Regions from separate parts of the Homo sapiens genome. Here region 1 is linked to region 2. The links come from fine-mapping of genetic effects on gene expression. A gene starts in region 2. The other region holds a variant in brackets. All regions are shown on one strand. Distances are between the middles of the regions.

Region 1 (8,331 bases), 35 kb before region 2:
ATTACTTTTATCTTCCCATTAGTACGTGAATAGAAGAATTACATTCCCTTCTTTAACAGGTGTGATTTTTTTTTTTTTTTTTTGAGACAAAGTCTCGCTCTGTCGCCCAGGCTGGAATGCAGTGACGCAACCTTGTCTCACTGAGACCTCCGCCTCCCAGGTTCAAGCAATTCTGTTGCCTCAGCCTCCCAAGTAGCTGGGACTACAGGCGCCTGCCACCATGCCCTGCTAATTTTTGTATTTTCAGTAGAGATAGGGTTTCACTGTGTTGGTCAGGCTGGTCTTGAATTCCTGACCTCGTGATCCACCCGCCTTGGCCTCCCAAAGTGCTGGGATTACAGGCATAAGCCACCACGCCCGGCCTTCTGGTGTGAAACATTTTACAGTATAAATACTATAATTTAGTCATTTTCTTATTGGTAGGCTTTCTAAACTGTTTTTTTTTTTTGAGCTATTAAAACGATGCTACAATAAAGAGACATGTACAAAGATGTTTAGGCATACAGGGGAGTATCTCAAACAAAAACTAGAAACAAAAATAGGTGGGTCAAAGGGAAGACTCCATTTTCAACTATCCTGCCTAAAGAGCTCCTTGAGGTGCTTAGAAGCTGGCAGGGTAAAGCAGTCAGTATAGCAAGTGGGAAAGATGAATAAAAGAATTTGATGTACCTCAGGACTACCAAAGTAAGGTTATGCCCCTGAAGTCCACACCATGCTGAGTGGGCCGGGGTTGTAAACTCAGACACCAAAGCTTTGCATAAGGTCTAACTGATGGGTGAATTCATTAAATTTCACCTGTTTACCTGCATGGGAACCTGGACTTCTGCTGAGAGGAGAAATGGAGAGGGCCCCATGGCCCTCGGTGCTGGTGGGACCCAAAGCAGAATCAGAGGAGCAGGTATAAGAATTGAAGGCAGGAAACTGCTGTAGATTCTCGAGGGGAATGTGGACTTCTGGGTCTGCAAAGGAAAGATAACCCTTGTAAACCCATTTACAGAATTCAATTTTTTTTTTTTTTTTTTGAGATGGGGTCTCACTCTGTCACCCAGGCTGGAGTGTAGTGGTACGATCTCTGTTCACTGCATCCTCTGCCTCCCAGGCTCAAGCGATCCTCCCACCTCAGCCTCCCGAGTAGCCGGGACCACAGGCACGTGCCACCACACCTAGCTAATTTTTTGAATTTTTAAAGAGATGAGGTTTCACCATGTTGTCCAGCCTGGTCTTGAACTCCTGAGCTCAAGTGATCTGCCCACCTTGGCCTCCCAAAGTGTTGGGATTATAGACGTGAGCCACCACACCTGGCCTGAATTTTTCAAATAGTTTCCAACAGTTGAGGACATCACACATGCGTACCCCCAAAGGTCTAGAGGATGCAGACAAAAGCTAAAACCCAAATTTACAATAACTGTCCTTCTATAATGTCTTTAATATAGTTAACCTTGTTCTAACTATTCATAATTGAGGCTGGGTAACAAACATGCAGGTTAATTACATTGTTCTACTTGTCTTGATATTTCCATAATAAAAAGGTGAAAACAAAAAATCCTATTCCTGAAATATCAGTTTTCTCAAAGTTCAGGACATGTGCCAAACACCTACACGGTGTTGGGACCCCAAGTATACACTTGTCCCACTTGAGATATAAAATGTATGTTTCCATGCCATATGGAGTCAAAACACCGAAGTCCTTTTCTGGGCCAAGGACTCAGTTCCTTGTGTTCTAGTGGATAATGGGACCTCAGGTCACACTAATCCCCTGGATTCAATGAAACTTATTTTGGAGAACCAGATCAAAAGGCTGTGCTTACTGCTACGAAAGATCTCTTAAATCCAACTTCCTGCATTTCCTAGTCTATCAAAATTTCCATCTTATCAGACCCACCTGGCAGACTTGCTGTGTATAGCTGGTCCCTTTAATAAAGAGTCAGAGGTAAGGTCAGTGATCCAGAGAGCATGGGGAACGATGGCCCCCAGCATTCTTAGCGAAGCCCCAATTCCCATCTCTGGAACAGGTGTATATCACCCACTATTACCAAGGCTGAATTTCCTCTTAATCCTTACTATGTGCTAGGCACTTTGACCCATATTAACTCATTATATTTGCAAGCAAGCCTATTAAGGAGGTGCTCTCATGATTCACATTTAAAAGTTGAAGAAAACAAGTGGCTAAGGTCTGGCTCCCAGGTCCCAGACACAGAGTTCTATACAACGACGTACAGCAGTGCTAGTCAAAGATGAAAGTTCCTGAACTTACACTTGCCCTGTTTCTTGTTCTCCTCTATCTCAATCCTGCGCTCTCGGCGGCGTTCCTCCCGAGCCTTCTTTTGGCGCTGACGTTTCCTCTTCTCAATGTCATCTGCAGATTGGTCAGGTTGTAAAGAGGTAGACCCAGGACAACATGGTCATTACCTCCTCCCAGTATTAGCAGCTAAACCCACAACAGTAGGCCCAGCTGGACTAGATGAACAGATGAAGTGTTTAGGAGGTACTAAGACTCATGATACAGTTCCATAAGTTTCCTCCCCCACTGGGTGTCTAGCCACAAGAATCCCTGAACCCTACTATAAAGAGAAGCAGAGCAGGGGCATTCTCACCTGAGAACATCTCTAGGGTTTCCTTAGAGACCACAGGAGGTTGCAAAGCCAGTTCACAGATGCTGAACTCACAGGTGAGTGGCAAGTGAGAGAGATATCTGTGACGCTGTCGAACATCCTACATTGGAAAAAGGACCAATACTCAACAAAAGCAAGCCTAACTCTGAAAGCAGGGGGTCCTAACCCCGATATCCAACAATATATACATAACACAGCCAGCACTGGGGCTGGAAACAGTAGTGCTCAATTATCCTCATTTTGAAAAGCCAAAGAGAAACTGTCAACCTACAGCAAGGTGGAATAAGCAACCAAATCCAGTTATTTTTGGTTTGTACTGCAAAGGAGTGAACTGAGTCCAGCAACAAATAATCTAAAGCCCATCAGCTGTTTCTGATTTTTTCAAGGCCCCACAGCTGAGGGGGACGAACAGAGAAGATAAAGTTATTTGTTGGCAGAAAAACAGAACAGAAAAAAACCTGGGAACCACTGACAGAATAAATAACTGGGAAGGAAGATAAAGCAGATCTCCCTATTGAAAGACACTTGGCCTGAAATAGTAGAAAATGAAGCCCAATTTTTTTTTTCTGAGACATGGTCTTGCTCTGCCGCCCAGGCCAGCTCACTGCAGACTTGATCTCCCCAGCTCAGGTGATCCTTCTGCCTCAGCCTCCTGAGGAGCTGGGACAACAGGTGCACATCATCATACCCAGCTAATTTTTTTTTGTATTTTTTGTAGAAATGCCCTGGCTGGTCTGAAACTCCTAGCCTCAAGCAATCTGCCTGAGTAGGCCTCCCAAAAGTGCTGGGATTACAGGTGTGAGCTACCACATCCAGCCCATTTATTTTCATTTCTATTCTTTTTCTGCATATGTTTGATGAAAAATTTATAGTACTCAAAGAGTCTAATTTTAAATCTTACAACAAATTTGTGACATTTCTCCCAAGCAATAAGGAGGATAAGAAACAAAAATAAACTCCATCTTAAATAAAAGAAATATCTATATCCCCAAACTACAATCAATGAACCAGAGAAGCAGGGAACAGCATTAACTGATTTAACAGAACCCTGGCATGCTGAGGGGACACTTCACTTACAAAGAATTCACAGCACCATCACTGACAGAAAGACTAAAAATACAAAAACTAAAGGCCTTGAAGGTTTGTGAACTTAGGATGGCTAGGCCTACCTCAAAGAGATTAGGTTAATACTGCTGCCTGACCCTCCATTTCTACAGGAAGGCCTCACCTCAGACATGGAGTAGCCAGCAATCTCCACCACAGTTGCTGAGATCTTCTCGGGGCTCCTCTCCAGGCTGCCGTACTCCCGCACGAGGCAGCGCACATTCACAGGGTGCAGGAACATATGCTGTCCATCTTCCGCTGAGGACAAGGGGCTCTATCACACACCAGTCTTGGCCAGTCCCCAGGAGGCTCCCCACCCCTCCCCATGCCCAAGGGCTCAAGCCACCCAAGCCACAGGATCTAGTGGCGCTCCTCTGCTTAGAGCACCGGGTCACCTCTGAAACACCTCTGCGGCAACCCAGCCCTCTCTTCCGGCACCCTCACCTTGGTAAAAGTAGTAACAAGGAGAGCTGCTGAGGCGTGTGAAGCCTGACTTGGTGATGGGTTCCTGCTGGCTGGACTCAGTGCAAATGGTCCCCTCTTTAAGATTGTCATCTGCTAACTCCAAGTCATCACAGGCCTCTGGCAACCCCTCAGGCTCTGGTTCAGACACTGCTTCCTCCTCTTCTACCAGAGGGAGAGCAAGAGGTCTAGAAGGAGTGTCCAGAGAACAAACTTCCGTGGTTTCTTCATCGAAGGCAGACAGATACTCCAGCACACCCTGTTGCAGCAAACTCTAAGTCAACAGAAAGGATATCTCCTGCTTTCCGAAAGCAATGTGGCAAATGCAGACCTAAGAGCCAAGCTCCCTAGATGTTTATCTTAGCTGTCGTGTTCACTGATTTAACACCCCTGGGGAAAGAACTAATAACAAGCATACAGAAAATACTCATTGTCCCCTCTTCTCTTGAGAAGGTTTAGATCTCACAGTAATGCCTACCAGCTCAATGACAGCATTTGAGGAACGGCAGCCACTTAGTAACAGGAACACACTAACCTTCCTGGGTTGAAAAACAGACTCCTT[C/T]GCCAAGGGAGCCATCAGCACCAGTTGTTCCAGAGCAGCCACAACACCAGTGACCTCCCTTCTGCTTCCGGCCAATCCCGACAGAGCCTCTTCCCGAGTCTAACGTGGCCAGAGAGAACACCAGAGAAGGTTAAGTTTCCAGACACACACTTAGCTTGAAGGGCAAGGGCTTAGAATGGCCTCTCAACAGGACCAAAAGTTAAAAGGCAATGAGACCCAATGGGAAGGAATTAGGTGCTTAAATATCTCAACTTTGAGGGAAACAGGAAGCAAAAAGCATGCAATACCCACTAAGGATTGGAATCTGCTTAGAATCTGACACTGGGGAGTGTAAATTAGTTCAATCATTGTGGAAGACAGTGTGGTGATTCCTCAAAGACCTAAAGACAGAAATAAAATTTCACCCAGCAATCCCATTACTGGGTATATAGCCAAAGGAATATAAATCATTCTACTGTAAAGACACATACGGCCAGGTGTGGTGGCTCATGCCTGTAATCCCAGCACTTTGGGAGACTGAGGTGGGCGGATCACCTGAGGTTGGAAGTTCAAGACCACCCTGACCAACATGGAGAAACCCCATCTCTACTAAAAATACAAAATAACCCAGGCATGGTGGGGCATGCCTGTAATTCCTGCTACTCAGGAGGCTGAGGCAGGAGAATCACTTGAACCTTGGAGGCAGAGGTTGTGATGAGCCGAGATCACGCCACTGCACTCCAGCCTGGGCAACGAGAGCAAAACTCTGTCTCAAAAAAAAAAAAAAAAAAAAGAAAGAAAGAAAAAGAAAAACCAAATATCGCACACATGTTCTCACTTCTAAGTGGGAGCTAAATGATGAAACATGGACACATAGAGGGGAACACACACTGAGGCCTATCAGAGGGTGGAGAGTGGGAGGAGGGAGGGGATCAGGAAAAATAACCAATGGGTACTAAGCTTAATACCTGGGTGAAAATCTGTATAACAAACCCCCATGACACAGGTTTACCATGTAACAACCTGCATTTGTACCCCTGAACTTAAAAGTTAAAAAAAATAAAAGAGAATCTGACACAAACAACACTATACAAAAAACTTCCAGAACAGAAATCTAAGAACATGAAACTAACCTAGTTTTTACAAACTATGCTCAGACAGAGGTCCAGAGTAGTAGGAAGGATTTAGCTAACTCCACCTCAGCCTGGACAGCTCTAATTCTATGTAGCCTTTCTTATGCCTGTAATGGCATTTGAACAAATACGGCTGCAACGTATTATAGAAAGAAAGCAAAAGTTAAATACACAGGACTCTACCCAAGGAGCCCTTGGGAGTCAGGGAGAAGGGAATTCAAATACCAGCTGCATCCCTTACTAGCAAATTACCCAACCCAGGATTCAGTTTCCTCATCCATGAAAGGGGATAGTTCTATCTACCACACTAGAAGCTTAAGTGAGATAAATGTGTATAGCACAAGTCCTATCAAATGCTGATCACTCAATAAATATGGGCTTCTATTGCTCTAAGCTAGATCAGTGGTTCCAGGAGTGTGGTCTGGGGATGAGCAGCCATCAGAATCACCCTAGAACTTGTTATATGCAAATTACTGAGCCTACTGAGCTTAACCTATGCAATCAATATCTCAAAGTGGGACCTAACAACCAGTGGTTGTGATGCTTCAAGAATCTCTGTTGTGGAAGATAAAAGACCCAGGGAATTCTGTTCTTGTGTAATTCTTGCCGTTTCAGGTACTCCTAAGGCATACTGGGCAGGCCATAATACTTTCTCCACAATGTCTTTCAAAACACCTCTAGAATAGAATCTTAAGTATTTTCCCAGAAAACAAAGAACTCTAACTTGCTTTAAGAACATAGCTAATCTAAAAAACTCCACTGTCACAATTAGTTATAAAATCATTTTGACTTGCTCCTTTCAGCTCTAGAAAGAGCTTTAAAAGCCCTAGGTTAAACCTTCTCTACTGTCATCAAACAAAGCCCAAAACAAATTGGCTTTTTTAGCCATTCTCTGCTTATTGTCTTAAATGTGGAATGGAACTAACTTAATCCCCAGCGTCCATCATCTCACCCCCGACAGAGTGAAAAGGTTTAGCATTTCTGGTTTTCACCACAGAACGCCGAGAAAGTGAAAAGGTTTAGCATCTCCAATGCATCCTCTCACCTTGAGCTCCTGGATAGCTGCCTCAATAAAGCAGGACTCGGGAGTGTGCTTCTCCTCTGCCAGCTGCTGCTCTAGTGCTACTTTCTCCTCCAGAACTACCCGGTGCAGCACCTGCTCCTTAGAGGCCAGCAGCAACTTGGAGTACTGGCTGTGCTGTTCATCTATAAGAATGCCAGCAAGATCAAAGAAATGCAACATTCAAAGCTCACGATGGTGTAGCTAAATAGGAATTTTCAAATACAGCCTTTTCTCTGGGGTGAAAATGGGGTAATTTAGCATGATTTCCTAGAAAATAATTTAACAATGGTCTTAAAATAAGGTCTGTAGCTCTGCTCTTGATATAAGAAATCTAAGAAACCCAGAGATGTAGTCAAAACTTTAGTCACGCGTTTATTGTTACAGCATTGTATGTAATATCAGAAAAGCTCAAACCAGCCAGGCACCATGGCTCACACCTGTAATCCCAGCACTTTGGGAGGTCAAGGCGGGTGGATCACTTGAGATCAAGAGTTCGAGACCAGCCTGACCAACATGGTGAAACCCCGTCTCTACTAAAGATACAAAAAAGTTAGTCGGGCCTGGTAGGGCATGCCTGTAATCCCAGCTACTTGGGAGGCTGAGGCAGGAGAATCGCTTGAACCCAGGAGGCAGAGGTCGCAGTGAGCCAAGATCATGCCACTGCATTCCAGCTTGGGCAACAAAAGCGAAACTCTGTCTCAAAAAAAAAAAAAACAAAAAAAACCACACACAGAAAAAGAAAAGCTCAAACCAACCAGTAAAACCAACAATAAAGAATAAAGAAATGGTGGACCAGCGCAGTGGCTCACACCTATAATCCCAGTACTTTGAGAGGCCAAGACAGGAAGATTGCTTGAGTTTAGAAGTTTAAGACCAAGCCAGCTGGGTGTGGTGGCTCACGTTCAGCACTTTGGGAGGCTGAGGCAGGTGGATCACCTGAAGTTAGGAGTTCGAAACCAGCCTGGCCAACATAGAGATACCCTGTTTCTATTAAAAATACAAAAAATTAGCTGGGCGTGGTGACGGGCGCCTATAATCCCAGCTACTAGGGAGGCTGGAGTAAGAAAATCGCTTGAACCCAGGAGGCAGAGGTTTCAGTGAGCCAAGATCGCACCATTGCACTCCAGCCTGGGCAACAAGTGCAAAACTCTGCCTCAAAAAATAAAATTAAAAAAAAATAACACCAGGCGGAGTACGGTGGCTCACACCTGTAATCCCAGCACTTTGGGAGGCTGAGGTAGGCGGATCACAAGATCAAGAGATTGAGACCATGCTGGCCAACATGGTGAAACCCCGTCTCTACTAAAAATACAAAAACTAGCCAGGTGTGGTGGTGCGTGCCTGTAATCTCAGCTACTCAGGACGCTGAGGCAGGAGAATCTCTTGAACCTGGGAGGCGGAGATTGCAGTGAGCCG
Region 2 (8,284 bases):
AAAAGCAGATTAGTCATTTCAAAATTACTTTTCTTGTAAAGGTTTAAGCAGAATGGACTTCCTTATGTGGGGTAAAACTGACCAGTTTGGGGATTTGATGATTTCTCAGAAGGTCAGATAAACAATTTCGTTTAGGCGTGGTTGGGTAGAAATTCACCTTGAGTAACTCTGTTTTGGTTTGGTCTACTGTGCTGAAGCTCAGTGCAAAACAATGGGCTCCTATAAATTGTATTTAACAGCTGTTAACATTATCACATTTAATCTTCTCAATAACTAAATTTTAGACTAAGTGTGCCTGTAGTCCCAGCTACTCAGGAGGCTGAGGAGGGATGATCACTTGAGCCCAAGAGTATGAATCCAGCCTGGGTAACACAACAAGACTCTGTCCCTAAATAAATAAAATTTAAAGATGAGTAAATGGACTCCAAAAGTCCAGATAATTTGCCTATTATCACATAGCTAACAAGTGATGTTCTTACCTATGAGACAAGCAGTTCCTCATTTTACAGATACAGACTGAGATTTAGAAAATCATGCATATGGGGCCGGGCACGGTGGCTCACACCTGTAACCCCAGCACTTTGGGAGGCCAAGCCGGGTGGATCAACAGGTCAGGAGATCGAGACCAGCCTGACCAACATAGTGAAACCCCGTCTCTACTAAAAATACAAAAAAATTAGCCAGGCGTGGTGGTGCGCACCTGTAATCTCAGCTACTGAGGAGGCTGAGGCAGGAGAATCACTTGAACCCAGAAGGCACAGGTTGCAGTGAGCCAAGACTGCACCACTGTATTCCAGCCTGGGCAACAGAGCGAGACTCCATCTCAAAAAAAAAAAGAAGAAAGAAAATAATGTATGTGGGTCAGGTGCAATGTAATCCCAGCACTTTTTGGGAGGCCTGTAATCCCAGCACTTTTTGGGAGGCCTGTAATCCCAGCACTTTTTGGGAGTTCGAGGCGGGCAGATCACGAGGTCAGGATTTCGAGACCAGCCTGACCAATACAGTGAAACCCCGTCTCTCCTAAAAATACAACAATTAGCCGGGCGTGGTGGCGCACACCTGTAGTCCCAGCTACTTGGGAGGTTGAGGGAGGACAATCGCTTGAACCTGGGAGGCGGAGGTTGCAGTGAGCTGAGATTGGGCCACTGCACTCCAGCCTGGGTGACAGAGCGAGACTCTGTCTCAAAAAAAAAAAAAAAGAAAAAAAAAGGAAAATCATGTATGTGGCCAGGCAAGGTAGCTCAATCCCAACATTCTGGGAGGCTGAGGCAGGAAGATCACTTGATGTTAGGAGTTTGAGACCAGCCTGAACATAGTGAAACCAATTCTCTACTAAAAATTAAAAAACAAAAAACAAAAACATATGGTTTACAGATATAGACGCTAAGACTTTGGGAATCATACCACACCTATTTGTACTTTGGAAAATTACAAATGATTCCCTTCCAACCATAGTAGTTTGAGATTCAAAAGATCACATAGACATGCTATTAAGGAAATGACCAGGGCCAGGTGCGGTTGCTCACGCCTATAATCCCAGCACTTTGGGAGATTGAGGTAGGCAGATTGCCCAAGCCCAGGAGTTCAAGACCATTCAGGGCAACATGGCAAAACCCTGTCTCAACAAAAAATGCAAAAATCAGCCCAGTGTGGTGGTGCACACCTGTAGTCCCAGCTACTCAGGAGGTTGAGGTGGGAGGATGGCTTGAGCCTGGGAGGGTGAGAAGTGAGCTATGATTGTGCCACTGCACTCCACCCTGGGTGACAAAGTGAGATCCTATTTCAAAATAAAGAATGAATCAATAAATAAGTAAATAAGACCAGCCTAGCCAAAATGGTGAAACCCCATCTCTACTAAAAATACAAAAATTAGCGCCGGGAGTGGTGGCTCAGCACTTTGGGAGGCTGAGGCAGGTGGATTACCTGAAGTCAGGAGTTCAAGACCAGCCTGGCCAATATAGCGAAACCCCATCTCTACTAAAAATACAAAAATTAGCCTGGCATGGTGGCGCATGCCTGTAATCCCAGCTACTAGGGAAGCTGAGGCAGGAGGATCACTTGAACCCAGAAGACAGAGGTTGCAGTGAGCCGAAGTCATGCCACTGCACTCCAGTCTGGGCAACAGAGCAAGACGCTACCTCAAAAAAAAAATACCTTCCAACAGTCCTTGTCCTACTTCACTTTTTACAGGTTTTCCTCCACATATCATATGAAATAAGAGAACAGTGAAATACTGTTGGTCTGGATACTTAATCTGATGTGCAGAAGGAACAGCCCTAAATCCTGAGATCCATTCTTTTATATAACTAGATATGGAAGATATAAGATTCTTTGATGAGACTTTATTTATTTATTTATTTATTTATTTATTTATTTTTGAGATGGAGTCTGGCTCTGTCACCCAGGCTTGAGTGCAGTGGTGCAATCTCAGCTCACTGCAACCAGTGACTCCTGGGTTGAAGGGATTCTCCTGCTTCAACCTCCTGAATAGCTGGGACTACAGGTGTGCACCACCATGCCTGGCTGATTTTTGTATTTTAGTAGAGACGGGGTTTCACCATGTTAGCCATGCTGGTCTCGAACTCCTGACCTCATGCAATCCGCCCACCTCGGGCTCCCAAAGTGTTGGGATTACAGGCGTGAGCCACCGCACCCAGCCACTTAATTTCTTTTAACAAAGACATGAGAATTATGAATACATGGATGAATCATTTCGCCCTTGTATCCTTCCTTTTTTTTTTCTCATCACTATACCAACGAGGACCTTCTATCATTCTTAAAATAAAAGAGAAAGAAACAGAAATCCCAGCGCAGTACTTCCCAAACGAAAGCGGTTAGGTGTCCATCTGTCAGGCTATATTAAACCAGGAAGAGAATTTTCATTTCAAAACAGTTTCTTCTATTGGCGCTTTCTCCTCGTGAAATATTTACAGGAAACATACATTTAAAATGGAATGAAAGCAGAAACATACAGTAATCCAAGCAAAACTCAACAACGTCCGTTCTTTATTTTGCACAAGACGGTCTGCATTACCCTTGCCATTAAAAAAAGACTGAAAATCTGGGGCTGAAGTAAAACACCCATGACATGCCACCTGGAGCTAGGAATGTAGCTTTGTGTCAGCAGGAGACCAAGTGTGAGTGGTGGTTCTGGCTTGCTAAGTGGATACCAGAGCTTTCGTTCCCATTTATGAGCTTCCTAGGTTCATAAAACGGACAGAACAAAGAAGTCTGTCCTATGTTTATTTTTCAGAGTAGTGTAACATATGTTTCTCAAGAATGGTCTGCATCTTTAGCATCAGAATCGCCAGAGAAATTTGTTTAAATAGAGATTAAAGGGATATAGGTCAGATCAAAATCTCTGGTAGTTGGGGACCCAGGAATCTTCATTTTAAAACGTAAACCAAGTGATTCTTACGCTCAACAAAGTGTGCAGGAATTGGCCCGTGATCTTGGCTTTTTAACCACACCATGCCTCAATTTCCCCCTTCTGCACAAGACAACAAGAGTTCCTGGATATCTTGCGAGTTAGTACTTTTCTGCCTAGCCGGATTCAGAGACATGGCCGCTAAGAGGTGACCCGGGGCTCCCCTGAGATCCCCTGATTCCTGGTGAATTGTAAATTCAATTTGAGAAGAGAGAGAGGAAGGGATTTCCGATACTTAGAGACCACCCTTTGGATCCTAGAGATAATGCCGGCACAACTGTGTATCAGATTTCAGGGCGCGTTCGGCTAATAATGTTGCCGGCCAGCCGCCGTCGTTCGTGGAGTGACGCAACAAGGCGTACTCTCTGGCCGTTGTCACTCGACTACCAAGATGGCGGCCCCCGGGAGCTGTGCTCTATGGAGCTATTGCGGCCGTGGGTGGTCGCGGGCGATGCGGGGCTGCCAGCTCCTCGGGCTTCGTAGCTCTTGGCCCGGGGACCTACTAAGTGCTCGGCTCTTGTCCCAAGAGAAGCGGGCAGCGGAAACGCACTTTGGGTTTGAGACTGTGTCGGAAGAGGAGAAGGGGGGCAAAGGTGAAAGGGGCGAGAGGGCGGATGGGAGGGATCTGACCGTCCATGGTCTGGTTTCTTCTGGCCAGTTAGGGTTGATTTAACATCCAATTAGTTCCAGTGTTGTTGTCTGTGCAGTTATGATTTTTTTTTTTTTTGGAGACAGAATTTCGCTCTTGTTGCCCACACTGGAGTGCAATGGTCCGATCTTGGCTCACTGCAACCTCCGCCTCCCGGGTTCAAGCGATTCTCCTGCCTCAGCTTCCCGAGTAGCTGGGATTACAGGCGCCCGCCAGCACGCCCGGCTAACTTTTTTGTATTCTTACTAGAGATGGGGTTTCACCAGGCTGGTCTCGAACTCCTGACCTCAGGTGATTCGCCTGCCTCGGCCTCCCAAAGTGCTGGGATTACAGGCGTGAGCCACCGCGCCCAGCCAGACGCCCCCTTTTTAAAAGCAGAATACTGATGACTAAATCCCATCAACTGAGCGTTTGTGATGTGCCAGGCAACGTACAGACATTATTTTCAATTCTCATTTTCAACATTCCAGTAGTGGGTATTGTTATTACCATATTACACGTGAGGAAATTGAGACTTAAAGGTTAAGCAAGAAGTTGCCCAGTTGAACATATCAGTAAGTGGCGGAACCAGTATTCAAACCCAGTTTAATCTGAGTCTGAAGCCCCCGTTCTTTACCTCTAGAGAAAAATAGGGGTTTTTTTGGTTGTTTTTATTTATTTATTTATTTATTTATTTATTTTGAGACGGAGTTTCGCTCTTGTTGCCCAGGCTGGAGTGCAATGGCGCAATATGGGCTCACTGCAACCTCAGCCTCCTAGGTTCAAGCGATCCTCCTGCCTCAGCCTCCTGAGTAGCTGGGATTACAGGCATCTGCCACTGTGCCCTGCTAATTTTTGTATTTTCAGTAGAGACGGGGTTTCTTTTTTTTTTTTTTTTTTTTTTTTTTTTTTTTTTGAGACTGAGTCTCTCTCTGTCACCCCCAGGCTGGAAGGCAGTGGCGCGATCTCGGCTCACTGCAAGCTCCGCCTCCTGGCTTCACGCCATTCTCCTGCCTCAGCCTCCCGAGTAGCTGGGACTACAGGGGCCCGCCACCATGCCCGGCTAATTTTTTGTATTTTTTTTTTAGTACAGACAGGGTTTCACCATGTTAGCCAGGATGGTCTGGATCTCCTGACCTCGTGATCCACCTGCCTCGGCCTCCCAAAGTGCTGGGATTACAGGCATGAGCCACCACACCGGCCAATGTATAATCAACATTTTACAATGTATAATCAATGTATAATCAACATTTCACACAGTGGCAAGCAAGGAAGAAGTTAACTACTGAACTAAATATGAATTCCAGATTGGGGACTGAGATTGCAGTACAGACAGTCCTCGCTGTGCACAGTAATGCAAGACTGTGAAAATGTGCAAGCTGAAGTCATACACAATGACCTTAATCAATGGGAAAAATTAGAATTGTTTTATGACCTTTAAAAATTATCAACCATCAAAAACCCTGTCAGTTATAAATGTATAGTGAAATGAAAAAATATATACTGAAGTTGATATTTATTTACAGCCAGGTGCGATGGTTCACACCTGTAATCCCAGCACTTTGGGAGGCCGAGGTAGGCACTTGAAGTCAGGAGTTCGAGACCAGCCTGGCCAACGTGGTGAAACCTCATCTCTACTAAAAATACAAAAAAAATTAGCCAAGCATGGTGACGCACGCCTGTAATCACAGCTAATTAGGAGGCTGAGGCAGGCAAATTTCTTGAACCTGGGAGGTGGACGTTGCAGTGATCTGAGATTGTGCCACTGCACTCTAGCCTGGGCGACACAGTGAGACTGTCTCAAAAACAAAGAAAAAAAATTCTAATAAAAAATTAGAAACCTTGAGAATTAAATTCTTTTATTTCCTTGTAAAAAAATTGCCAAGAGTAGGCTGGGCGCAGTGGCTCACGCCTGTAATCCCAGCACTTTGAGAGGCCGAGGCGGGTGGATCATGAGGTCAGGAGATTGAGACCATCCTGGCTAACACGGTGAAACTCCGTCTCTACTAAAAATACAAAAAAATTAGCCGGGCATGGTGGCGGGCGCCTGTAGTCCCAGCTACTCCGGAGGCTGAGGCAGGAGAATGGCATGAACCCGGGAGGAGGAGCTTGCAGTGAGCCGAGATCCTGCCACTACACTCCAGCCTGGGCGACAGAGCAAGACTCTGTCTCAAAAAAAAAAAAAAAAAAAAAAAAAAAAAAAAAATTGCCAAGAGTAGTTTGAGCACTATTTGCCACCTTCTTGTCGTATGAAATATCTTTTCTATGCCTTGGCAAATTGCCATATTTCTTTCTAAGTTTTTATCTACTTCTGATATTTTATCCTTTGTGCTTTCAATGTTATGAAATACCTCCAAGAACTCCTTTAATGTGAAAGTTTTTGCTGGCATCACTTCTTCTGGGACATCTTCAACCTTTTTGTCACAGCTCCATTTCTTGTTCATGTTGGTAAGTTCATCTTCCTGCAGTTCCTCTGGCTGTATGTCTAGAGTCTCTCCAGTGGCAGCAGTGTCAATATTCCCACAGTCATCTATTTCTCCTATAACTCCACTGACACTCAATTTGAATTTCACTTCCAGCATTATCAGCATTTTCATTTTTGTTGCTCAATTCCCTCTTTCATTTATCCAGTTATGCCACGTGTGCTTTATCACTGAAAGATAAAGAGGCAATACAAGTACATGCTTTACTGTCTGTGAACTGAGTAACTGATGCAGTGACCAGTCACCTAAAGTCTGGGAAAGAAGTGCGTGATTGGTTGCTGAACATGTTGTGTATCTGTTATTTACATAGTGATTTGTAGGCTAAAGAATGTATTTTATGTAATTACTCATATTTAATATACCATTGTACTTGAATTGTGGTATTGGGTGACTGGTGTTGTTTAGCTAAACCACAGTAACTGAAATTCATGCATATTGGAACATGCAAAGCCAGGACTATTTGCTTATTTATTTATTTATTTATATTTATTTTTTTGGAGATGGAGTCTCGCTCTGTCGCCCAGGCTGGAGTGCGGTGGCACGATCTCAGCTCACTGTAAGCTCCGCCTCCCAGGTTCATGCCATTCTCCTGCCTCAGCCTCCCGAGTAGCTGGGACTACAGGCGCCCACCACCACGCCCAGCTAGTTTTTTTGTATTTTTAGTAGAGATGGAGTTTCACTGTGTTAGCTAGGATGGTCTCGATCTCTGGACCTCGTGATCCCCCCGCCTCAGCCTCCCAAAGTTCTGGGATTATAGGCATGAGCCACTGCGCCCAGCCTTGTTTATTTATTTTTGAGACAAGTTCTCACTATGCTGCCCAGGCTGGGGTACAATGTCTATTCACAGGCACAATCATAGCACACTGCAGCCTTGAACTCCTGGGTTCAAGCAGTCCTCTCCCATTAGCCCCCCGAGTAGCTGGCACTCCAGGTGTGTGCCACCATGCCAGCAAGGAGGACTATTTATACCGAGTGGGGTTAGCCTTAGTGTCCCCCAGACACCCCAAAAGATGCTCAAAAGAGCAGGCTGGGCGTGGTGGCTCACGCCTGTAATCCCAGTACTTTGGGAGGCTGAGGTGGGCAGATCATGAGGTCAGGAGTTTGAGACCAGCTGGCCAACATGGTGAAACCCCATCTCTACTAAAAATACAAAAATTAGCCAGGCATGGTGGCAAGTGCCTGTAATCGTAGCTATTCGGGAGGCTGAGGCAGGAGAATCACTTGAACCTAGAAGGAGGAGGTTGCAGTGAGCCGAGATTGCGCCACTGTACCCCAGCCTGGGCGACAGAGCTAGACGCCGTCTCAAAAACAAAAGTCCGGGCACGGTGGCTCACACCTGTGATCCTAACACTTTGGGAAGCCAAGGCGGGCAGATCTGAGGTTAGGAGATCGAGACTATCCTGGCTAGCAGTGAAACCCCATCTCTACTAAAAATACAACAGATTAGCTGGGCATGGTGGCACGTGCCTGTAGTCCCAGCTACTTGGGAGGCTGAGCCAGGAGAATTGCCGGGAGGCGGAGGTTACAGTGAGCCAAGATCACGCCACTGCACTCCAGCCTGGGTGACAGAGCAAGACTCCGTCCCAAAAAAAATTTAAAAAAAAAAAAGGAAAGAGCGCACTTGGAAATCCGAAGGTTGAGAATAGGCGTTGAAGTTTGAGTTAAAGGCGGGCTCTGTAGTCTGATTCAGCAGAAGAGAGTCATGTTTTCAATCTGTGTAGCACATTTCATCTGAGGAACTCAAAG

The links. PIP is the estimated chance that this variant, and not a neighbour inherited with it, causes the effect.
Region 1: its variant is fine-mapped to the expression of COQ5 in whole blood (INTERVAL, PIP 0.96).

The regions. Positions count from the first base shown.
Region 1 is chr12:120,559,453-120,567,783 of GRCh38, reverse strand. It overlaps RNF10 (ring finger protein 10), which reads right to left. Exons shown (of 17, transcript NM_014868.5): 7 at 6,898-7,058; 8 at 4,714-4,839; 9 at 4,161-4,437; 10 at 3,841-3,974; 11 at 2,595-2,712; 12 at 2,255-2,356; 13 at 804-959. Among named protein-coding and RNA genes, the nearest start is that of POP5, 18 kb to the left of the region's middle. The variant C/T (reference allele first, on the strand shown) is at 4,741.
Region 2 is chr12:120,524,676-120,532,959 of GRCh38, reverse strand. It overlaps COQ5 (coenzyme Q5, methyltransferase), which reads left to right and starts at 3,802. Exons shown (of 7, transcript NM_032314.4): 1 at 3,802-4,020. The coding sequence starts at 3,819. RefSeq lists enhancers at 3,466-3,925, 3,272-4,041, 4,042-4,812.